7 linked regions of the Homo sapiens genome follow. The protein of the gene in region 1 purifies or fractionates together with the protein of each later gene. This does not show direct contact. Each region holds a gene or a part of one and is shown on either strand. Other genes may lie near its edges.

Evidence for each region.
Region 2: the proteins of CALU (region 1) and TMEM165 fractionate together in Homo sapiens (co-fractionation; one large-scale study listed by BioGRID). This does not show direct contact.
Region 3: the proteins of CALU (region 1) and TPRKB fractionate together in Homo sapiens (co-fractionation; one large-scale study listed by BioGRID). This does not show direct contact.
Region 4: the proteins of CALU (region 1) and C1QTNF1 purify together in Homo sapiens (co-immunoprecipitation; one large-scale study listed by IntAct). This does not show direct contact.
Region 5: the proteins of CALU (region 1) and ARPC5L fractionate together in Homo sapiens (co-fractionation; one large-scale study listed by BioGRID). This does not show direct contact.
Region 6: the proteins of CALU (region 1) and ELFN1 fractionate together in Homo sapiens (co-fractionation; one large-scale study listed by BioGRID). This does not show direct contact.
Region 7: the proteins of CALU (region 1) and IPO11 fractionate together in Homo sapiens (co-fractionation; one large-scale study listed by BioGRID). This does not show direct contact.

The regions. Positions count from the first base shown.
Region 1 is NC_000007.14:128,745,859-128,749,358, forward strand, and holds part of CALU (calumenin isoform a precursor), read left to right. Parts: intron 1-1,694; exon of another isoform or gene 1,695-2,496; coding exon of another isoform or gene 2,497-2,509; intron 2,510-2,714; coding exon of another isoform or gene 2,715-2,725; coding exon 2,726-2,946; intron 2,947-3,500. UniProt on the Homo sapiens protein: Involved in regulation of vitamin K-dependent carboxylation of multiple N-terminal glutamate residues. Seems to inhibit gamma-carboxylase GGCX. Binds 7 calcium ions with a low affinity.
Region 2 is NC_000004.12:55,416,457-55,419,956, reverse strand, and holds part of TMEM165 (putative divalent cation/proton antiporter TMEM165 precursor), read right to left. Parts: intron 2,886-3,500; coding exon 2,710-2,885; intron 2,155-2,709; coding exon 1,972-2,154; intron 1-1,971. UniProt on the Homo sapiens protein: Putative divalent cation:proton antiporter that exchanges calcium or manganese ions for protons across the Golgi membrane.
Region 3 is NC_000002.12:73,731,860-73,734,345, reverse strand, and holds part of TPRKB (EKC/KEOPS complex subunit TPRKB), read left to right. Parts: intron 1-1,641; exon of another isoform or gene 1,642-1,645; coding exon of another isoform or gene 1,646-1,762; intron 1,763-2,060; coding exon 2,061-2,183; intron 2,184-2,486. UniProt on the Homo sapiens protein: Component of the EKC/KEOPS complex that is required for the formation of a threonylcarbamoyl group on adenosine at position 37 (t(6)A37) in tRNAs that read codons beginning with adenine.
Region 4 is NC_000017.11:79,030,669-79,034,168, forward strand, and holds part of C1QTNF1 (complement C1q tumor necrosis factor-related protein 1 isoform 1 precursor), read left to right. Parts: intron 1-3,500.
Region 5 is NC_000009.12:124,872,130-124,875,181, forward strand, and holds part of ARPC5L (actin-related protein 2/3 complex subunit 5-like protein), read left to right. Parts: exon of another isoform or gene 1-1,537; coding exon of another isoform or gene 1,538-1,557; exon of another isoform or gene 1,558-1,562; coding exon 1,563-1,635; intron 1,636-2,845; coding exon 2,846-3,022; intron 3,023-3,052. UniProt on the Homo sapiens protein: May function as component of the Arp2/3 complex which is involved in regulation of actin polymerization and together with an activating nucleation-promoting factor (NPF) mediates the formation of branched actin networks.
Region 6 is NC_000007.14:1,676,777-1,680,276, forward strand, and holds part of ELFN1 (protein ELFN1 precursor), read left to right. Parts: intron 1-3,500. UniProt on the Homo sapiens protein: Postsynaptic protein that regulates circuit dynamics in the central nervous system by modulating the temporal dynamics of interneuron recruitment.
Region 7 is NC_000005.10:62,625,763-62,629,082, forward strand, and holds the end of IPO11 (importin-11), read left to right. Parts: intron 1-1,391; coding exon 1,392-1,556; 3' UTR 1,557-2,820; downstream 2,821-3,320. UniProt on the Homo sapiens protein: Functions in nuclear protein import as nuclear transport receptor. Serves as receptor for nuclear localization signals (NLS) in cargo substrates.

The sequences.
Region 1 (3,500 bases):
GCAGGATACAGTATTAAAGTTCACTTTCACACCAATCTTACCAGCCCACCCCATTCCTGTCTCTTCTCCCATGAACCTTGAGGTTACCACTGTTTACACATGGGTATTTGTCTTTGCACACCATTTATGTGCATGTTATATTTTATACAAATAAAAACAAGCTGGGGAGATTGTTTAATTTTGTTTTGCTTTTTATGTAAATGAGATCTTGACGTTGTTTTGAACCTTGCTTTTTTTGTTCACTTGACATATCTTGGTGAATTTTCCATTTCACTGCAGATAGATGCATCTCGTTCTTTTTTTTTTTTTACATTCTTTTTTTTGAGGAAGGGTCTCGCTCTGTCACTGAAGTGCAGTGGTGAGATCTCAGCTCACTGCAGCCTCTGCCTCCCGGGTTCCAGTACTTCTCGTGCCTCAGCCTCCTGAGTAGCTGGGACTACAGGCGTGTGCCACCACACCCAGCTAAGTTTTGTATTTTTAGTAGAGACAGGGTTTCACCGTATTTCCCAGGGTGGTCTCGAACTCCTGACCTCAAGTGATCCTCCCGCCTCGGCCTCCCAAAGTGCTGGGATTACAGGCATGAGCCACCATGCCTGGCTGCTTTTTTTATTTTTTTTGAGATAGGATCTCTGTCACCCACGCTGGAGTGCAGTGGTACAATCTCAGCTAACTGCAACCTCCACCTGGTGGGTTCAAGCTATCCTCCCACCTCAGCCTCCTGAGTAGCTGAGACTACAGGTGTATGCCACCATGCCCAGCTAATTTTTGTATTTTTAGTAGAGACAGTGTTTCGCTATCACCCAGGCTTGTCTTAAACTCCCGGATGCAAGTGATCCGCCTGCATTAGCCTCCCAAAGTCTTGGGATTACAGGCGTGAACCACCACCCCCGGCCTCATGTCATTCTTTTTTTTTTTTTTTTTTTTTTTTGAGACGGAGTCTCACTCTGTAGCCCAGGCTGGAGTGTAGAGGTGCTATCTCGGCTCACTGCAAGCTCTGCCTCCTGGGTTCACGCCATTCTCCTGCCACAGCCTCCCAAGTAGCTGGGACTACAGGCACCCACCACCACGCCCGGCTAATTTTTTGTATTTGTAGTAGAGACGGGGTTTTACCGTGTTAGCCAGGATGATCTCGATCTCCTGACCTTGTGATCCACCCGCCTCGGCCTCCCAGTGTGCTGGGATTACAAGCATGAGCCACTGCGCCCGGCCCATTCTTTTTAACCTTTGTGTATTTTTCCATAATCGAGATTTAATATATTTTACCAATTCTCTGTTTTTATTTGTTTTCCGATTTTTTAATCATTGTGAACTGTCATCATTGAACATCTTAATACAAGTATCTTTGTCTGTAAATGTGGGTATTTTGATGGGATTGAATGAAACAATGTTGAGAAACATAGCCAAGTTCTAACATTGATAGGAATAGAGTAATAAGTACCATCTTCTACCCATTTCTCTATGGGTTTCATGGTCTTGCTTTCACATTGCTTCTTCTGATGGATTTTCCTAAGTCTTAACCTTCACGTCATCAGTAACAGTACCTTATTTGAGACTGGGGCACTTGGGAATGACTGCCCCCCAACCCCCGCCCCCATTATCTCCTTAGGTACTTTTCTGTTTGTCTTACTGTGTTGTCGTATTTACTCTAGAACACTTTCCACTCTCTACTGATATGTCCTCCTCTGCCATTTCAGGACCTCCCACCCTCCCCCACTGAGCTGCCTTCCCAGTGATGAAAGAAAAAATGTAAAAGCCTGAAAACCCTTCTTCTTGATTTTTAATTTTTTTTTTTCCCTCTAAGACCTTAACCACTCTGGATAGTATCACGGGGTATCAGTAGAGTGTGCTAAACAGATGTGTACTCTGCAGCTTCTTTGCAGGTTTTTTGTCACATTTTTCAGTCAAGTGTTCCAGCTTTGTGCTTGTTCATTAGAGTCACCTGTGACTACAGAGATTCTGAAAGTTTGAATCAGGGCCTGGGAATCTGTACTTTGAACAGTACTACAGGTGGTATTTATGCCTAGGCAAGTATGGGAAACAACTGTGCAGAAGGATAAAGACGTTCTTATCTATGACTAGACCATCTGAATGATTTGGCCTTTGAAGGTGACTCAAGGTTGAGCCTGGATGTTGGAGACTTGGTGCTATAGACCAAGGAAGCTGCCAAGTATTTCGCTGGTTCCTAATCTCATGAACATCAGAATCACCTGAAAAACATTTAAAGCTACGAATGTCTGAATTCAGCTTCAGAGACTCTAAATCAATAGGAGAAACTTAAAGCTTCCTAGATGATTCTAATAACCAGCCATGTTTGAAGACCAGACCACCAATGCGTACAAGAAGTAAAGGATTTGGAGTCAACATTTAAACCTTGGTTCTTTCACTTTTAATTCTTATGAACTTGGGCAAAAGGATTAAAATTCTACTTTGGTATCTTTTGAAAGAAAACAGAAAGTGGACATTTTAACTATAAGTTTCTTATCAGCCTACAATCAGATGAAGGAAACTGGTAAAAATTTCTCACTGTAATAATTGAAGAGTCTGATATTCCACCATACTTATTTTATGGATGAAGTAATATTTGGGATAATATAAAAGACTTGCATAGATATGTATATCAAATTAATAGTTTAACTCGGATGTGAGCTTTTAATTTCTTATTTAGTTATTAAGCATACTGCCTCCTGAATTAACTGCTTTTCATTTTCTTCAAGATCTAATTATCATGGACCTGCGACAGTTTCTTATGTGCCTGTCCCTGTGCACAGCCTTTGCCTTGAGCAAACCCACAGAAAAGAAGGACCGTGTACATCATGAGCCTCAGCTCAGTGACAAGGTTCACAATGATGCTCAGAGTTTTGATTATGACCATGATGCCTTCTTGGGTGCTGAAGAAGCAAAGACCTTTGATCAGCTGACACCAGAAGAGAGCAAGGAAAGGCTTGGGTAAGGTACCACCTCTCAGGGGTCTAGTGTGGGTAATGACATTCTTTATAAAGGCTAATTCTTTTCTTTTCTGGCTCAGTTATGAGTAAAGTTATATTGAACTATTAATACATCTTCTGAAAGCTAACCATGGAATTACTACCTCTAAAATTTCATTAAATGCCTGATTTCATACATTTTTAATTGAATAACAGTTGGTGCCTCATTCTACAAAGCATCATTTTTGCATAAAAGTACCAAGTACTGCAAGACCCAACTTGAACTGCATTATCTTGCTACCAGAAGAACATAGCATGGGGGGATTTCTCATCTCTTCTCATCTCTACTGCTTTTAATTTTTAAAAACTATCTGTGCCCTACTGACCTGGCACAAGCCAAGTCTTTGATGGGCTAATAAACGGCACATTGGATCCCTATAAAGTTTATGATTTCCCGAGGTGTCCTTCACCCTCTTTATTTTCATTCTCAGATATTTGTTTAATTAAAAAACAAAAATCAAACCAACTTTGTCTTTTAGAAAATTGTAACTTAATGTCTGAGTATGAGTTACTGTT
Region 2 (3,500 bases), on another chromosome or scaffold:
GCCCAGCTAATTAAAGTGATATTTTTAAAGAAAGTTTGTTTTATGAGAATCAAATGAAAATCAGAGTTCCATTTTTTTTCCCCAAAATACAGCATTTTTGAGGCTTCCCTGACAAAATAGCCTTTCCCATCTATCTTAGTCCTGGCCTTCAACTGTCTTGTATTTTAAACCACAGCCTATAATTAAAGAACTTGTTCTTTTATGATAGTTCCAAGGAATTAGAAACAATTTTACTCTTATAAAAAGAGAATCTGATATAAACACAGATAAGAAATAGTATCAGTTAAGATGAAAAAGAGGTTGAAAAGTGGCAGCAGTATTCCATTCCACAACCGTCTCCACATGAAATCTTAATAAATCTGTGTGAACAATGACAGGCGCCTCATATAAAACCTTGCTATTCCCATCAAAAGAAAAATTAAAAAATAAAAAACCAATGGGCATGTTTTAAATAAGTGGCATTGAACAACTGTGAAGAAGGCCACAGCCAGCCAGCTTACTCCCTCACACAAGTCACCCGATCTCTCTGGGGGTCAGGTTCTTCATCTGAAGAGTAAAAGCTACAAGATGAGCTGAGGTCTCTAGCTTCCCACTCCAGAACTTAGGATTCTTGGGCTAAGACTTTTTGAACAAAAAGTTCCTACACAGAAACAAACAAGTCACCTAGGCCAGAGCAGTGACTCTCGCCTATAATCCCAGAAGGATTATTTGCGAGGCTGAGGCAGGAAGTTTCAGGCCAGGGGTTCAAAACTGGCTGGACAACATGGTGAGACCCCACCCCTACCAAAAAGTAAATAAATAAATTACCCATAATAGCAGTACGCAACGATAGATAAGCACTGAAATAAAAATAATGTTTTTATTTCCTTAAGTCTTTTTTGTTCTTTTTATATATTATTTATTTAATTTTTTGAGATAGCATCTCACTCTGCTGCCCAGGCTGGAGTGCAGTGGTGCAATCTAGGCTCACTGCAACCTCTGCCTCCCCGGTTCAATCAATTCTCCTGCCTCAGTCTCCTGAGTAGCTAAGATTACAGGCATGAGCCACCTTGCCCGGCTAATTTTTGTATTTTTAGTAGTAGGGGTTTCTCCATGCTGGTCAGGCTGGTCTCAAACTCCTGACCTCAGGTGATCCGCCCACCTTGGCCTCCTAAAGTGCTGGGATTACAGGCGTGAGGGACGGCACCCGGCCTTCTTTTTATATTTTAAAAGTAAACCTCCTTTTAAAATTTTTCCATGTCACTGAAATGATGTTGAAGAGTGAATATTCTAAGAGCTACACAGAGATTTGTAAACAGCTGAACCAATTTTCTGCTGGATTATTAGGCTGTTTCTAAATTTTTACTAAGTTACAATAATTATAAGTAGTCTGTGCAACAGTCAATTTCTTTAGTGTAACACATGAACGAAAAGCTATACACTTTTTTTTTTTTTTCAGACTGGGTCTCCCTGTCACCAAGGCTGGAGTGCAGTGGCGCGAACACAGCTCACTGGAGCCTCAACCTCCCAGGCTCAAGCAATCCTCCCACCTCAACCCTCCTGAGTAGCTGGGACTACAGGTGCATACCACCAAGCCCGGCTAGCTACACATTTTTAAGGCTTTAGGTATTAAACACCAAAATGGCCTTCAATAATATTATACTGATTTATATTCTCAACAACTATAAAAAAGAAAGTTCTATGATAAGAAAACCAAGCTAAGATGACAAGTACCACGGCATCATTTTGGCAAAACCAAAGGGAAAAGGATGAGTAAAAAGAGCCCAACTGAGCTTGGTTACAAGAATTTCACCTGCAGGTAGCAGGAACTGGGAGAAGGCCAATTTTAGAGAGCAGCTGAATTATCAGATGTAAAACAGTCTTGCATATGAAGGAATGCTGTGGCCCACTTCAGTGTGTCCAGTGTTTTCTGGAACAAAGTAATAATAATTACGTTTCATTTTAAACAGTCTCCTCTCAAATATCACTCACCTCTCTAGCTGCCAATACAATTGTAGTTAGTTGAGAGCGATCACCCCATTCTGCTAAGAATGTTAATGTAAGAGCTTGAACAAAAATGGGTGAAATAAAATGCAACCACTTTTTCTGAGGTACTGTTATGCTTGTACCCGTTTCAACATCTCCCGGTCCATTTAAAAGTTTGGTTCGTTGAAACTAAAATAAATAATAAACAAATGAAAGTAAGCACAGGAAGCAAATCAAAATAGCACACAAATCACTTGACTTTTCTAAGTGTTTAAATTCTATGAAATATGCTCCAAAAAAACTACATTTATGTGACCCCCAAACCTCCCCTCTGAACCACTGGTCTCACACAGCAACAAATGCTATAGTCTCAATTCTTCCGTTTCTCCTCAGCTGAACAAACCAAACAGTATTTACTGCTCTGCTCACTTACTATCCTAGACACCACGGGAGAAACAGGTAAAATTATAAAATACAGTTCCTGCTTTTCAGGAGCTTATAATCAACCTAATTAAGGAAACTGATTACCTGTGTTCAGTATTCATCTGTCAGCTTCCTTTCTCTACTACATTCACACCAACCCCAAGTCAGATCACAGACAGGTATAAGAACAGAACAAAGCAAAAGAAGCTATTTTTGTGTAGCCCCGCATATCACACAGATGGGGCCACTGAGAAACCTCTGTAGAGTGTTTATTCCTAGTTGAGTGCCTTTTTGGTCCAGATCAACAGTGCCATGGCTTACTTCTTCATCTTTCTTCTTTAATTCAGCTTGAACTTCTTCCAGTTCCTCTTGACCCTCATCAGGGCTCATCTTTAAGCCTTCCCGAAGCATTCTAATGCCAAAAATGGCAAATAATACAGTTGAAACATAGTATGTATAGACCCTGGGGATGACTGTGGTGGCATAGCCAAACAAAACTGGAAAAAATACAACAGTATGTTTGTTAATCGAGTGTGTATCACGACCAAGGGAACAGTTAACTTCGGAAATAATAATTTATCACTGTTAAAAGAAAAATGGTTCACATTAGAAGCTAATCTAGTATGTAATAACCTCAAGTATTTCCAGATCTTTCTCTCCACCAATAATAAACCATTAGGTCTAGCCCAGGCCTAACACAGCTTACTCAGAAGCCAATGGTCCAGTTGAAGATGGCACATCTTCCTGAGAGATGTTAAGTAAGATATTGAACTCCTTTCCAGGCATGTTCAGTCAGAGGCTGGCTTGCCTTATGTTGTGCAAGGCACAGTACCTGGGGTAGAAGTTAGCTCTGAGGCCCTCTCAAGAGCTGAGATTTTATAACTGGGAAGCCATGCCACTTGCATAGTGGAATTTCTTCATCACAAATCTTTAAATCACAAACTTCTAGTGAAGAATCATGACAAAAGTCTCACATAGCAAGATTTAAACTCTGCTCCCTTGTAACTATTTAAAATAAGTACGTTTTATGAAAAAAATCTAAAAATTTCTTATTATATTAAAATAATGTTACAACAGGCTCAAACATTCAGTTCCACTCTTTCCCACTGATA
Region 3 (2,486 bases), on another chromosome or scaffold:
GGGTGGATCATCTGAGGTCAGGAGTTGAAGACCAGCCTGGCCAACATGGTGAAACCCTGTCTCAACTAAAAATACAAAAATTAGCTGGGCGTGGTGGCGGGCGCCTATAATCCCAGCTACTCGGGAGGCTGAGGCAGGAAAATCATTTGAACCCTGGAGGCAGAGGTTGCAGTGAGCCAAGATTGCGCCATTGCACTCCAGCCTGGGCGACGAGCAAAACTCTGTCTGGAAAAAAAAAATGGCCAGGCATGGTAGCTCACGCCTGTAATCCCAGCCCTTTGGGAGGCCGAGGCAGGCAGATCATGAGGTCAGGAGTTTGAGACCAGCCTGGCCAATATGGTGAAACCCTGTCTCTACTAAAAATACAAAAATTAGCTGAGCATGGTGGTGGGCACCTGTACTCAGGAGACTGAGGCAGGAGAATCGCTTGAGCCTGGGAGGCAGAGGTTGCAGTGAGCCGAGATTGTGCCACTGCACTCCAGCCTGGGCAACAGACCAAGAATCCGCCTCAAAAAAAAAAAAAAAAAAAAAGAATGAATGAGCCATACAGGGCATTTAAGTATACATTAATATTTGTGATGTTATAGGGTAGCCTAAAAATCTGTCACGGTTAGGGAAAAAATTCTTGTCCAAGTCAGATGCAGCCAACTTTGACTATAACAGTGAATAGAGGCAGAAGTGCCAGGTCCTGCCCTAGGAAATAGGAAAGGTTGTGGTCTGGGTCTAATATGGGAAATGCCTGGATCTCCAGCTTCTCATCTTTAAAATGGGGGTTCCTAACAAGACAGTCTGTAGAGGAGGAATAGTGTAGTGGTTAAGAGTACACACAGAGGCCAAGGTGGGTGGATTGCTTGAGGCCCGGAGTTTGAGACCAGCCTGGCCTACATAGTGAAACCGTGTCTCTACTAAAAATACAAAAAGTAGCTGGGTGTGGTGGTGTGTGCTGGTAGTCCCAGCTACTCGGGAGGCTGAGGCACAAGAATCATTTGAACCTGGGAGGCGGAGGTTACAGTGAATTGAGATTGAGCCACTGCATTCCAGCCTGGGCAATGGAGCGAGAGACTCTGTCTGTCTCCAAAAAAAAAAAAAAACAAAAAAACAGGGCACACGCAGTGCGATCATGTTACCGGGAATTAATCCCAGACCTACTACTTAGGCCTTTGAACAAGACATAACCAACCTTTATATAGTGCTTACTGCATTCCTAGCATTGTTCCAAGTGCTTTACGTATACTAACTTGCTTAATCTTCACAACAGCCTATGGAGTGAATACTGTTTCATCGGTCTCTAACAAATAAAATGCTAATGAACTTGCATAAGTTTCCTAGGTGATAGGTGACAGAGATGGGATTCAAACCCAGACATTCTTTGCCTCAATTTCCTCATCAATTACATACTACTACTACTGCTACTACTACTAATAATAGTGTCAATTTCATAGGGTAGTTTTGAGGATTAAAGAAAATATTACAAGTAAAATGTTTGCAATATGATCATGCCCATAATATTAGCCCTCAATTAATGTTATTTAAAAAAATTTTACTATTTGCATAAGTTCCTTGCAGCTTTAAAATTCTGTGATTTCCTGACTACCCAGGCCCTTGGGATAATAGTTGTTTTTTGTTTTTTTTTTTTTTGAGACAGTTTCACTCTTGTTGCCCAGGCTGGAGTGCAATGGCGCGATCTTGGCTCACGGCAACCTCTGCCTCCCGGGTTCAAGCAATTGTCCTGCCTCAGCCTCCTGAGTTGCTGGGATTACAGGTGCGTGCCACCACGCCTGACTAATTTTTGTATTTTTAGTAGAGAGGGTTTCGCCGTGTTGGCCAGGCTGGTCTTGAACCCTGACGTCAGGTGATCTACCCACCTTGGCCTCCCAAAGTGCTAGGATTACAGGTGTGAGCCACCGTGCCCAGCCGGGATAATAGTTTTGAAAATACAGACCGTAAGAATTGTGATGAAGTAAAACAGCTTGACACTGGAGTTAACCATGAGTTACCATGTGTTTTCAGGCACTGCAGATTCTCCATGTGTAATTAATTCTTTTTCCTTGCTTTGGTAGATTGTTGATCCATTTCAGATACTTGTGGCAGCAAACAAAGCAGTTCACCTCTACAAACTGGGAAAAATGAAGACAAGAACTCTATCTACTGAAATTATTTTCAACCTTTCCCCAAATAACAATGTAATGTGCACTTTCCTATTTCTGTTGACCGTGTCATAATAACATATGTGTTCCTCAGTGTTGGGTTGGAGGCTAAATTCCTGCAAGCCAGTGGTTAGTAATAAACCCAAATAATAGTGAAGAGAGCTCTGGACAGAGAGTTGAGGTTTAACCCTGCCTCTTACTAAGACAGTTTACATATGAGTAAACAAAAATTTAGCTAAATTAAGCGAGGTTAATTTTATCTGTTCTTACCATATAGGGTCAGGAAGACCCCTCAAGTATTTTTGCTTGAGAAGCTGACAGAAATCTAAATGATAAAAC
Region 4 (3,500 bases), on another chromosome or scaffold:
AGCTCACTGCAATCTCCATCTCCTGGGTTCAAGCGATTCTCCTGCCTCAGCCTTCCGACTAGCTGGGATTTTAGGCACACGCCACCACACCCAGCTAATTTTTGTACTTTTTAGTAGAGACGGGGTTTTACCATGTTGGTCAGGATGATATTGAACTCCTGACCTCAAGCGATCCGCCTGCCTCGGCCTCCCAGAGTGCTGGGATTACAGGCGTGAGCTACTGTGCCCGGCCCAAACATCTTTCCATGTCAGTAAATATTCACCTATTTACAGAGACGCCTAACTGGTGCTGCTGGCTGATTCTGCTCCCCAGTCCCTCCATATTATTTCTTTTCTTTTCTTTTTTTTTTTTTTTGAGATGGAGTCTTGCACTGTCGCCCAGGCTGGAGTGCAGTGGCATGATCTTGGCTCACTGCAAGCTCCACCTGACAGGTTCATGCCATTCTCCTGCCTCAGCCTCCCAAGTAGCTGGGACTACAGGTGTCTGCCACCACGCCCGGCTAATTTTTTGTATTTTTAGTAGAGACGGGGTTTCACCATGTTAGCCAGGATGGTCTCCATCTCCTGACCTCGTGATCTGCCTGCCTCGGCCTCCCAAAGTGATGGGATTACAGGCGTGAGCCACCGTGCCCAGCCCATATTATTTCTTTAAATGTCTTTAGAAAGAACGCGTTTACTGGTTTACCACAATCCCCATCCCTCCCTATTGCTGATTTCACCACTCTCATCAACCACCTTGTTTTTCTAGTTTCCATCATATGGATGGATGCACTGTAAATTTTTTGTTTTCTTTTTTTGAGATGGAGTTTCACTCTGTCACCCAGGCTGGAGTGCAGTGGTGCTATTTCACCTCACTGCATCCTCGCCTCCCAGGTTCAAGCAATTCTCCTGCCTCAGCCTCCCGAGTAGCTGGGATTACAGGCATGTGCCATGCCTGGCTAAATTTTGTATTTTTAGTAGAGACAAAGTTTCACCATGTCGGCCAGGCTGGTCTTGAACTCCTGACCTCAGGTGATCTGCCTGCCTCAGCCTCCCAAAGTGCTGGGATTACAGGCGTGAGCCACTGCACCCAGCCATGTATTTCATTAGACTGTCTTCCTGGACATGTAGGTGGTTTGTAACCTTGGTGAATGGAGGCAGTGGTTTCATCTCTTTGAAGCAATAGACTTTCTGAGTGCAGATAAGAGGAGCGTTTCTAGGGAAGATGGCTACATGGCCACACCAGGAGTCAGCACTCTGGTGACAGTGATGTACCTTGGATCTCTGTGTCCCCAGCTGGAATTAGAGAGAGATTTGGACAGGCTTGTGGCTGAGGCATGTCATCTTTGGACGATGGCTCTGTACTTGGGATTGATTGAAGGTGAGGAGAGCATTGGAGCCCTGTTGAGAGTTAGACACCGGATGCTGGTGATGCCTGAGAAATGAGATGGGGCTCCCATTTCCCAGGGGCTTGGAGTCTTGGGGACAGGACGAGGAAACCAAGGACTGTAGACCGGTTCGTCCGGATGCTGGGGGAGGGGCACCTACAGCACACCCAGGTCTGGGCAACTTCCCGGAGGAGGTGGCCTCAGGCTGAGCTCTGGAGAATACACGGATGGAGAAGGTGGAGGAGAAACAGGCATCCAGACAGAGGAAAGAGCGGGTGCCAGAGGACGAGACCTCAAGTGTGATCTGTTAGGGACTGAGTAGCTCCAGGGAGCTGGACTGAAAGGGACTCACGCGGGGTGGGGAAGGGCCAGATGGAAACGCTCAGGGCTTACTCCCTCCTTTACTGGCATAGGAAGCCCTTGGAGCCAGGGGTGGCATTCAGATTTGCGTTTTTCAGAGCTGCCTCTGGAAGCAGCGTGGGAGACAGATGGGAGGCAGAAAACCAGCCAGGGCTGGGGAAGAAGTGATGGAGAGGAGAGGAGACCTGCAGGGGGCTGGCGATGGATGAGATGTGGCGGGTGCAAGGAAGGTGGCATCCAAGTGGCTTGCAGGCTTCTGGCCCGGGACCCCGCGTGATGGCATGCATAGCTTTCACCAAGCTGCAAGCCACAGGAGGAGAAGCTAATGTGGTAAGGACGGGGGAGAAGGATATGAGTTAATTGGGGGCTTAAAAGCCTTAGGGCAGAGCAGCCTGGTGCGGTGGCTCACACCTGTAATCCCAGCACTTTAGGAGGCCGAGGCGGGTGGATCGCTTTGAGGTTAGGAGTTCGAGACCAGCCTGACAAACATGGCAAAACCCCATCTCTACTAAAAATACAAAAATTAGCTGGGCGTGGTGGTGGGCACCTGTAATCCCAGCTACTTTGGAGGCTGAGGCAGGAGAATTGCTTGAACCCAGGAGGCGGAGGTTGCAGCGAGCCAAGATTGTACCATTGTACTCCTGCCTGGGTGACAAGAGCAAAACTCTGTCTCAAAAAAAAAAAAAAAAAAAAGTCTTAGCGCAGAGCAAAGAGGAGGTGTTCAGCAGATGATTGCATATGTGGGTCTAGACCAGCGCTGCCCAGCAGAACCTTCAGCTGTGGTGCAAGGTGCTAAGAGCTGTGCTGTCTAGTATGGCAGCTGCTAGTCACGTGAGCACTTAAAATGTGGCTCCTTGGCCGAGAACTGGATGTTTCATTTTGTTTAACTGACATAGCTCCATGTGGCTCGTAGCCACTGTACTGACTTAAACATTTGCAAGCCCAGGTCTCAGCAGCCAGGTCAGTGGTGGGGACATGGAATGGGGCATTGTCAGCTGAAGATGTGGTGTGGACCAGGACAGGCAGAAAGAGGTCAGGCACGGTGGCTTCACGCTGATAATCCTACCCGCTTTGGGAGGCCAAGGCTGGAGGATTGCTTGAGACCAGCCTGGGAAACATAGTGAGATCCTGTCTCTAAAAAAAAAAAATTTTTTTTTTTAATTAGCTGGATGTGGTGGCATGTGCTTGTAGTTCCAGCTACCCGGGAGGCTGAGATGGGAGGATCACTTGGGTCCAAGGGTTTGAAGCTGCAGTGAGCCATGACTGTACCACTGCACTCCAGCCTGGGTGACAGGAGACCCTGTCTCCTAAATAAATAAATAAATAAATGTAGAATTAGGAGCAAGAGGAGCTGAGAGCTGAGGAACAGCCTGGGAGAGCACCTGTCTTTGGGGGTTGATCAGGAAGGCTAAACACTGGGAGACAGTGTGGGCCAAACCCCATGGCTGAAGAAGAGGGCAGTCGACATTGGCAGATGCTTACAGTGCGCACGAAAGAGGAATGCAGAAGGGTGTTGGGTGCCACGAGGGTCGTGGGTGATCGTAGCCAAGCAGTCGGGGCGGGGCCAGCAGGAGGAGGGCCAGTGGGATGCTGTGCTGATTATATTCCTGACCTAGAAGCCCCAGGCTGGGGATAAAGCCCTGTCTTATGCCAGGCTTCCTCAGGAGCTGCCTGGAAAATGCTGGGGCTTGTCCAGGCCCCAGACAACCAAATACGTTTGTGCTGCTTGTAAAGGGCTGGGTGCGACGGGGCACCAGGCCATAGAATTCCCAG
Region 5 (3,052 bases), on another chromosome or scaffold:
AGCAGTAGCTTTTTGCCCCCGTGGACTAGTTTTATACCTGCCCTTCCCCATCCATCATTTGAATGATGTCATTTGTTAGTTGTGCCAGGTTTACATGAAGAGCAAGTGAGCCTATGTTTTCTGTTCAGCCTATGGGATCCTGCTTATTGCTTTGGGGACACCACATTAGAAAAGAGTTACAAGGGCTGGGCGCGGTGGCTCACACCTGTAATCCCAGCACTTTGGGGAGGCCGAGGCGGACAGATCACGAGGTCAGGAGATCGAGACCATCCTGGCTAACACAGTGAAACCCCGCCTCTACTAAAAATACAAAAAAAATTAGCTGGGCGTGCTGGCGGGCGCCTGTCGTCCCAGCTACTCAGGAGGCTGAGGCAGGAGAATGGCATGAACCTGGGAGGCGGAGCTTGCAGTGAGGCAATATTGCGCCACTGCACTCCAGCCTGGGCGACAGAGCGAGACTCCGTCTCAAAAAAAAAAAGGAGTTACAAAGTAGAGGTTATCAGTGGCTGATATCAGGCTGGCCTTGTTTGGATGGGGAAAAGGAACTCCAGAACTGAAAGACAGAGGGACTGGACTGCCTCTTGAGTGTGGAAGGTGGATCAGAGCCAAGCAGGGAGCTGGGGAACCAGCGCTGGGAGTGGCTTGCCTGGTGGCGCAGACCCAGCTCACTCAAGATGGATCTCATACTGGGGAAGCCAGGAGATTCAGCTCTGCTCCGAAGGCCCTTCCTGTCTGCACGTGGGTATCACTGCATGAAGAGGAGTAGAGACCCGATTGGGCAGAAGCCATTCCTTGTTCTATTTTTGAAGCTTTTTGGCTGAAGCCAGTGTTTCATACGAGGAAATGAAAGTTGGCTGATGTAATTCAGTTTAAAATAGGTGTCACCTTTGGGGACCTAACCCAGATTGTAATTTTCTTTTGCATGCTGGGTATTCAGAACTCAGCAAAGAATGTGTTGTCAGGATTGCAACTGAGGTTGGGGGGTAAGGGTGGAGACTGGCTCATTGTTGGCAAAAGCTTCTGTTAGATTGATAAACTCTTTCCAGGTAACAGTTGGGACCTCATTGATCCCGATAGATCTTAGAAGTTCTAGCACATCTTAATTTCCTTAATAGTTTAATTGATGAAGAGCATTGATGAAGAGTTAGGAGGTCTCCCTTTGTACCTACATTTTCCGCTTTTTTAGAATGAGAAGATGAGAACGACCTCCAGTTCACATGTACGGGTGCTGTGAGGATCCAGTAGGGGAGATACAGTGCTCAGCACCAAGCAGGTGCAAGTGAGCACAATCCAATTTTACATCAAGTTACCCCTCCAGGACAGTTGCTTTGACGTGGAAGGTAGAGAGGGAGTTGAAAGGAGGGTTTGCATGGTTGGCAGAGGTGCCCTGCAGCCTCCCTGTGCAGGCTGTAAACCGTCTCTGCCCCCCTGGAAGCCGTGGAAGGTGGGTGGTATGGATGAGATCCCATCTGACTCTGTTCCTGAGCTGTTTCTGAAGTGAGCTTGTTCATGACGGCATGGATGTGCTTGAGCCTAGCTATCCTTAACTGGTGGTGATGCACAGGGGACATGCTTCGGGCATTCCATGCAGCCTTGCGGAACTCTCCCGTCAACACCAAGAATCAAGCTGTGAAGGTAAAGGGGTGGCGCTGCGGCTCTGCTGGGTGCTGTTGGGACCAGGGCTGTGGGTGTCTGCCCAGTGCGAGTGTGAGCTTTCATCCACATCAGAGGGAGTGAGTTGGCACTGGGCGGGGCTTCCAGGGAAGCCTCCTGGCGCTCCCTAGGTGGTGAGGCTTCTCTGACATCAACGCTGTCAGCGTTTATATACGAGAACCTCCCCACAGAAGCCTTCACTCCTGCTCACGGCCTCGTAGGCTGAGAAGTCAGCCTGGCCCTGGCTGATGAGGAAAATGGATGAATTCGCTCACCTGTGGTGCTTATGCTCCCACAGACTGTTAAATAGGCTTTGTCTGCCTGAGGATTTTAAGTACCCGTACGCTTTCCTACCTTCTAAAAACTAAATTGTGCTTACTGCATCACCAAGTCTAAAATTTGGTTCAGAGAAAGGGGTCTCCCTGCAGCTGGGATTCTGGCAGCTGTGACAGCATCTTGATGTCACCAGTGGCTGCACCTTCACAGAGTTCTGGGGAATGGCCCCACCCTTCTGGGTGTGAACACAAGAGGGACGCTGCAGCCGAGTCAACCTGGTTTTATTTTTATTTTTTAATAGTCCACCACCATTGTGGAGTATAATAAGGCCTTATTGGTGTCATCTAAAATAGTGATGGGCTGGGTGCCATGGTTTATGCCTGTAATCCCAGCACTTTGGGAGGCAGGAGGATCGCTTGAGCTCAGGAGTTTGAGACCAGCCTGGGCAACATAGCGAGACTTTGTCTGTATTAAAAAATAAAAAAAATAATTAGCTGGGCATGGTGGCATGTGCCTGTAGCCCTAACTGAGGTGGGAGGATTGCTTGAGCCTGGGAGAGGCTGCAGTGAGCTGAGATTGCACCACTGCACTCTAGCTCAGGCAACAGAGCGAGACCCTGCCCCTCCCTCCCTCTCTCCCTCTTTTCTCTTCTCTCTCTCTCTCTCTCTCAGAGTTGATACTTGTCCTAGTAAACTACTTACTCCCCCAAAATAAGTAGGGTAACTTGTTGGCATAAATAAAAGATACTTTGAAATTTAAATCCACAAAAGACGTTCTAACCCACTTATTTTAACCATCCTGGACGAATTAGAAACTGGGCAGTGTTTCTGGTGATCTGTGTCCTTGCTTTGGTGTGGGGCATGGCATGGCGGTGCCTTCGCAGCTCTGGGACTCACTTGCTCTTTTTCGTCTGCAGGAGCGAGCCCAGGGCGTGGTGCTGAAAGTGCTCACAAACTTCAAGAGCAGTGAGATTGAGCAGGCTGTGCAGTCACTGGACAGAAACGGCGTTGACTTGTTAATGAAGTACATTTATAAAGGCTTTGAGAAGCCCACAGAAAATAGCAGCGCAGTGTTACTCCAGTGGCACGAAAAGGTATGTGAACGCTGCCACGCGCCCCAGTGA
Region 6 (3,500 bases), about 130 Mb from region 1:
CTGAGAGGTGAGCGGGAGAGGCCCCAGGGTCCGGGCTGCTCCTGTGTCGGAGCTCTTGGGAAGAGTTGGTTGGTACTCGGATTGCTTCGGGAAGTCTCTGGGGAGTTTGCAGCAGCTGAGAGACAAGGCTGGCTTTAAAGCATCCCTCTGATGTCGACGGAGAAAGGGTTTTTAAGGGCACACGAGGGAATGAGCCACCCAGGGGACTGCCGACGTCTGAAAGCCATGAGGGTAGCCCGTACTGGGTGCCGACGCTGGCAGCGGAGAGACAGAGAGGATGTAACTTCTGTTTTGACAGTGCTTAGAAATTGGAGCTACATTCCTATAGAGAAAAATATTCTGTAAGGCAAAACCCATTTTCCTATTTATATTCATTAGGAAATGAGGGAGGCCGTCCTGTGGAGAGGAAGGTTGTGCGAAGCAAGTCCTGCTTCCCTTTGACAGCCATTAGCATTTCAGAGCTGTGTTCTTGGGGAGATGAACCCCCCAGAATGGATTGGTATGAAACAGTGGGGTCATCTTGGCACAGAACCCCTCAGGGTGCCCACAGAAGTGGGGCTCAGGGCCCATTCCTCAGGTATCCGGCACCCCGGCTTCCTCCAGGAGACGGGATTCTCAGATCTTCATTTGCGTGTGGCTCTGGGTGCAGATGGGTGTCCAAGTGAATATGGGAGCAGGCACGCATGTTCACGTGTGTGCGTGTAGATTACCACTTGTGTGAACAGAGGACTGTGCAGGGGTGTGTGTAGGTTCGCGGGTGTGTGCATGTAGATTCGTGTCTGAATATGGGAGTGTGCACACACGTGCATGAACTCACGTGTGTGTAGATTAGTGTCTGCGTGAATAGAGGTGTGTGCACACCCTCCTGGCCCCCCCACCCCTTTCCCCTCTTGGACACCACAGTGGGCAGCCGATGTGGGTTCATGAATGATCGTGGCTCTGATGTGAAATTCCTTCCGTCTGAGGGTTAGGTTCTGTAAAATGAATTTGTTGTCTGCTTTTTCTTTTTTTTTGCAAATTCAGTCGAGCGGATGGAGGCTCTGAGATGCAGGGAGCGTGTGGAGCTCCCGCGGGTTCCTGGTGGGTCTGGGAGCGGCCGGCTCCCCTGTCCTTGGGGTAGGCAGGGAGGGACGTCAGGAAGAGAGTCAGGCCCCTGAGGTGTTTGCTGTCTGACAGACATCCGGGCTTATTTTTGTTCCTTCATTACATTGTCCCCACAGAGCAAGAGCATGCTACATCTGAGGGCTGTGAGTCCCCAGAGACAGCTTTTCAGAGAAACAACTCACCAGAAATCCAGTGTTCCCGCACCCGAATCCACACCAGTCAGGGACCGAGGGGACTCAGCTGAATGGGCAGCTCCCAGCCCTGGGCGCCTGTGCCCTCACCATGCACAGTGTGTGTGCCACCGTGCTCCCACACACACTGGGGAGGCATGCACAGGGGTGCACAGGCACAGGTGCACGCACACACACACCATGGGGTCCTGGAGTGCAGCCTGTGCCAACATGGGACTTCAGCTCCCATCCTGCCACGACCACCCAGGGCACCTGAGCCTCACACCCCATACCTGGGCTCAGAGCAGCTCTCCCGCCCCACCCTGCGGCCCTGCATGTCAGTTGTGGGTAAGGCCCGCGCCACTGGGAATCTTCACACAGCCCGGAGGGAGGTGCTGTGTGCCCATTTCACAGACCAGAAGGCCGAGGCATGGAGTGGGGAAGTAACATGGTCCAGGCTCACGGCTCACATGTGCCAGAACCCAGCATAGCCTGTCTGGGACACCCTTGGGCCCCCACCCCACATTTTACAGAAAGGTCTGTAAACAGCCTCAGCACCTCCCATGGTGCCCAGACTTCCCCCAAGCCTCCTCTGGTGTCCTCTTCCTGCACCCACCACCAGCCTCAGCCCTGCTGCCCTTGCCTGGCCCCAGCGGTCGTGGGTGTGGACCCTGAGCCTCGGCTCTCACTTTGCCCTCTGTCTGCCCACGTGGGTGCCAGAGCATCCCCCATCTCTGCGACAGTCTTGGTGACTACCCGGCTTAGCGAGTGAGGGAATATTTGGCACAGCAGCGAAATCGGGAGTGTGGGGTGCGGGCATCGCGTGGACACGCTGTGAACTGGGATTTGGAGCACGGGTGATGCCAGAGTGGGTGATGTCAGGGGCTGGCCTGTGCTCCCAGGAGTGCTCACCCCGAGGAACTGGCCTTGGGTGGCAGAGGAGAGGAGAGGCCTGGGGACCCTGACCCTCATCTCCCATCACCTCCGCTGGGCTGCGTGACCCTGAGTTACACACTAATGATTATGCCCGTCTTGCAGGGATGTTGGCACCTACTCAGCTAGAGCCCACCCCCCACATACACACACACGCGTGCGCGCACACACACACGCGTGCACACACGTACGCGCGCACACACACACACACACAACTGCGCATGGCTCCCATTTGACAAAAGAGCAGCCAGGGCTCTGTACCCTGCCAGGGTCTAGCTGGTGACCAGGGCTGGGCGGGAGGGCCATAGCTACAGCCCAGGCCTGGGTCCATTGTGCTGGCATTATCACGGCTGCACATCCCCCTCCCTGCAGGAGGCTCTGGGACCTCCCCAAGCCTGGGGGTGCCTGGCCTGACCATCTGGGCCGTGGGCAGGGAACTCTGGGCCTGGGGCCAGGAGGACAGTCCCGGGGCCTGCTCTGGGGTCCCCTGCAGGTTGCTGGCTGAGGGAACCCACAGGAACGTTCCCTGGAGGTTCAGGCAGGAGGGGAAACTGAGGCCCAGGCTGCTGCCTCAGCCCCGTCCCTACCGAGCTCTCCCGGGGAGGATGTGGGGAGGGGAACCGAGGGTTCCTGCAAGCCTCATGTTCGCACCTGTGCACTGGAGCTGCTAACTCCTGTCTGCTGGGGTGAGTCCCACCAAGCGGGGTGGCATTTGTGGGGCGTTGGCACAGCCTGGATGCCATGGTGCTCAGAATGAGGGTCCCTTCCCCCTGCCCCCTGGCCACACTCCAACAGTGGCTCCCTCCTGTGACTCTGCCCCTGTCCTTGGCCATTGCGGGCGTGGTGTCCCCAGTCCTCTGAAAGCCCCATTGTGCAGGGTCACCTTTGCCTTGTCCTGTCCACCACAGGGCCCTGGCACCCAGATCACCATCCTCGAGGAAAGGAGAGGGCAGGGACAGAGATGGAACGGGGAGCAGAAGGGGGCGCGTGTGCCCCTGAGCGCTCCTGTGTGCAGGTGCACAGTTCATTAAACATGACCATGAAGTCGGGACATGGGAGTTACGCATTAGAAGTGTTCATTCACTGATTCATTCATTCATTCACCTACCCAGTGGACATTCTCCGATGCTGGGCTCCGTGGTCTGGATACGAAAGCAAAACAGGTGTTATCCTGGGAGTAGCCTGGGCTTGCCTTGGGCACTCTGGCTCATTCTGACCCGGTCCGTGGGCCCAGGGCAGTGCTGGAACACCCCTTGGAGGAGTGCCCAAGGCAGATCACGTAGGGGAACAAAT
Region 7 (3,320 bases), on another chromosome or scaffold:
GCTGCTTAGAAATTCTATTATTAGACACTTATATAAGCTAATACATAAGATGAGATGTCAGTTGTAGAGTGGTTTGTCCTTATACCAAATGGCCACAGAGGGGTATACTTTTCTAATTGCTGAGTCCATTTTTTAGAGTAATCTTCTTAATTTGGAATACTTTTAGGTTTACAGGAAAGTAACAAAAATAGTACAAAGAGTTCCCATGTGCCCCTCACCCAGTTTTTCCTAATGTTAACATTGTATGTTACATTTTTCTTTCCTCTTCTTTTTCTTTTTTTTTTCGAGACGGAGTCTCGCTCTGTCACCCAGGCTGGAGTGCAATGGCACGATCTCAGCTCACTGCAACCTCCGCATCCCAGATTCAGGCGATTCTCCTGCCTCAGCCTCCCAAGTAGCTGGGACTACAGGCGTGCACCACCACGCCAGGCTAATTTTTGTATTTTCAGTAGAGACGGGGTTTCACCATATTGGCCAGGCTGGTCTCGAACTCCTGACCTTGTGATCTGCCTGCCTCAGCCTCCTAAAGTGCTGGGATTACAGGCATGAGCCACCGAGCCTGGCCCTACATTTTCCAAATATACATGGTACATTTATCAAAATTAAGAAACCAACATCGGTGCATTATTATTAAGTAAACTCCAGACTTTTATTTAGATTTTACCAGTTTTTCCGGTAACACTCTTGGTTGCAGGATTCAATCGGGTATATCACACATTGCACTTAGCCTGGGTCCAGGTGTGTTTTATGTATATGTATGTATGTGCATACCACAGGGATAGAAGAAGCCAAAATATTTTCTTTTGTCATTGTTATCTTTAAGGAGTGGACTTCTGGGTTATTTTTCATGAAATTACACTCCTTTTGTTTTCCAAATATCCCAGTGGGAGACGAGGAGTCCCTTTTTTTTTTTTTTCAGCCAGAAGCATATACAGGAATTTAAATAGTATTGCAATCCAGGGTAGGGCAAACACTGTCTCCTTTCTCGATCCTGAGGGCATCACTGGGTTGCCACAGTGGCCTACCCTACCCTATCTTCCTAAGGAGAATGCTGGACAATTGTATTTAAATGTTCTTCAGCATGTTCTGTTTCTTTTAGAATGCTTTCTACTAGGCTTTGATGCTTTAAATGAATGAGTCCCCCAGCTCTTGAGAAATGCCTGATCAGAAAACATGTTCAGGGGGCGCTAGGGAACTGAAGTTAAGACTAATTGAATGAAATTTTCTTTGACAGATTTTTCCACCATGAGATTAGTACAGAATCTGTGTGAGAAGAGAGGCAGAAGCAATTTTGTTACTGTAGAAGAGATTACAAAGAACTTTTGTAAATTGCAGGTAGGAGAGACTTGTTTTGCTTTTTTGACAGTCTTGCTCCTCTCTGTATCCCACAGCTGGCCCTGAAGGACCCTGTTCATACAGTGTCACTGCAGCAGTTCATCTACGAGAAGCTCAAGGCACAGCAGGAGATGCTAGGAGAACAAGGTTTCCAGTCCCTCATGGAAACAGTGGATACGGAGATTGTCACCCAGCTACAGGAGTTTTTGCAAGGATTCTAAGAGCACATGACATGTGGCTGCCTCCCCTTTCAGAAACAAGCTGAGTAACCCAGCCTGCCGTTTGTATGTGAGAGCCTGCTGAGATGAAGAAATCACTTCATGAAAATAAGCAAAGACCACACATTTTTTACTACAAAATGTAAAGGATAAATGTAAATCCTGCATAACTAAAATCACAAACCTATTCCTCAAAAGAATTTAATTTTATATTTATGAGGGGGCCCTTCACTAAAAAGTACATGTAAAAGTACATTTGATGACAATAGCTGCTTAGTTTCCTGTTAAGAGAAGAAACTTTATCTTTTAATTATGTGCTCTTAATATTTGAAGATGAGAGTTAATACCTGAGATGTTTTTCTGCAACCAAAATTCATTAAATTTGGCTGCCTTATCCTTTTTTTAAGCTAATGAAACTACAGGTTTGAAAAATGACAAAGCTGTTCAGATGATGCTATTAAAGAAATGTGTGTACTAAGCAAAAATATATAAATAGTGACAAATACACATTACCAAGCTTATCTTGCAAGGGAGTTATTTTCATCTAACATAGAAAGTGTGTTTTATCAGACAAATGCTTTTATTTTCATTCTAATAATTTGATACAGAAATTAGTAAAGGCATTTTTTTCTTTTTTTTTCCAGTAAATACATTGGGTCTATAAATGTGCATTTGTAAGGGCCACAAAAGTGAACGTGTGGTACTGTAGTACCACGTGGGAGACCTCTGGTTATGGTTTAGTCCTAGTTCCTTTGTTACTCCTGTGAGCACCGAGAAGAACTGGGCGACTCCCAGTCCCACCTGTGCTGTGACAGTCCCACGTGGCTATGACAGACTGTTTAGTACTTACCCTTCTCAGGTTCCTCAGTGCAGGGGTGCATCAGGGCCTCAATAATAGGGGTATACCTGGGAGGATCCAGCAGTAATCCCCAGGGTACTAGGATTACTAGTACTCTGATGGAACTAGTCTTCCTTCCTTATTCCTCGAACATGCAGTACATAAAAAGGGGAAAAGGAGAAAAAAAAAGCCTTACTTTGTTTTACTTGCCATTTATTGTAAGGAAACTTTAAAGCATTTTTTAGGAAATACTCAAAAGCAAGGTTGGAAAATGTTTTATCTTTCTATAGAAAGTTGGGTACAGTATGTAACTGCGGGAAACCCACTGCCCCTTTGTAAGCTGTGGAACCCAAACTGTATGGGGATATTTGATGTTTTCAGAAAGAGGAAGAAAATATGGTCCAAATTAAATTTTCCAAAGATACCTCACCTTGGACTGATTTGTCTGACTACTTTTCTTGCTCCCCCCAAAAAATGAGTTCTTAAAAATTGCCCAGTGACTTATAGAGAATTTTCTTTTATACTCTAGCTTTGATTCTGTGCTAGTAGGTATCAGTATTGCAGGTGGCAAATCCTAGTTACCCTTTTAATTTATCTTCATTTAAAGACAAAAAGCTCCTTTCAAGTGATATTTCTTTATCAGTATTACTCAGTCCTGAAGACTGATCCAAGAAGAATTTCTTTTTGTTGACTTAATTATTTTCATTTGAAACACTAACTCATTAGTGTTATCAGAAATTCTCAAACATGCTCATTTTTCAGTTATAGTAAAGTACTCATCCTTCTAATTCCTGACAGATTTCATTATAGTGCCATACCAAATATTACTGAAATAGCTACCTTGCAAAAGAAGTAAAAAGCTTATCTCAGGGAAAGAGTTTGCTTCATTTTTAAAACTCACAAGTTTAAATAGGCTTGGTAAATAGCTC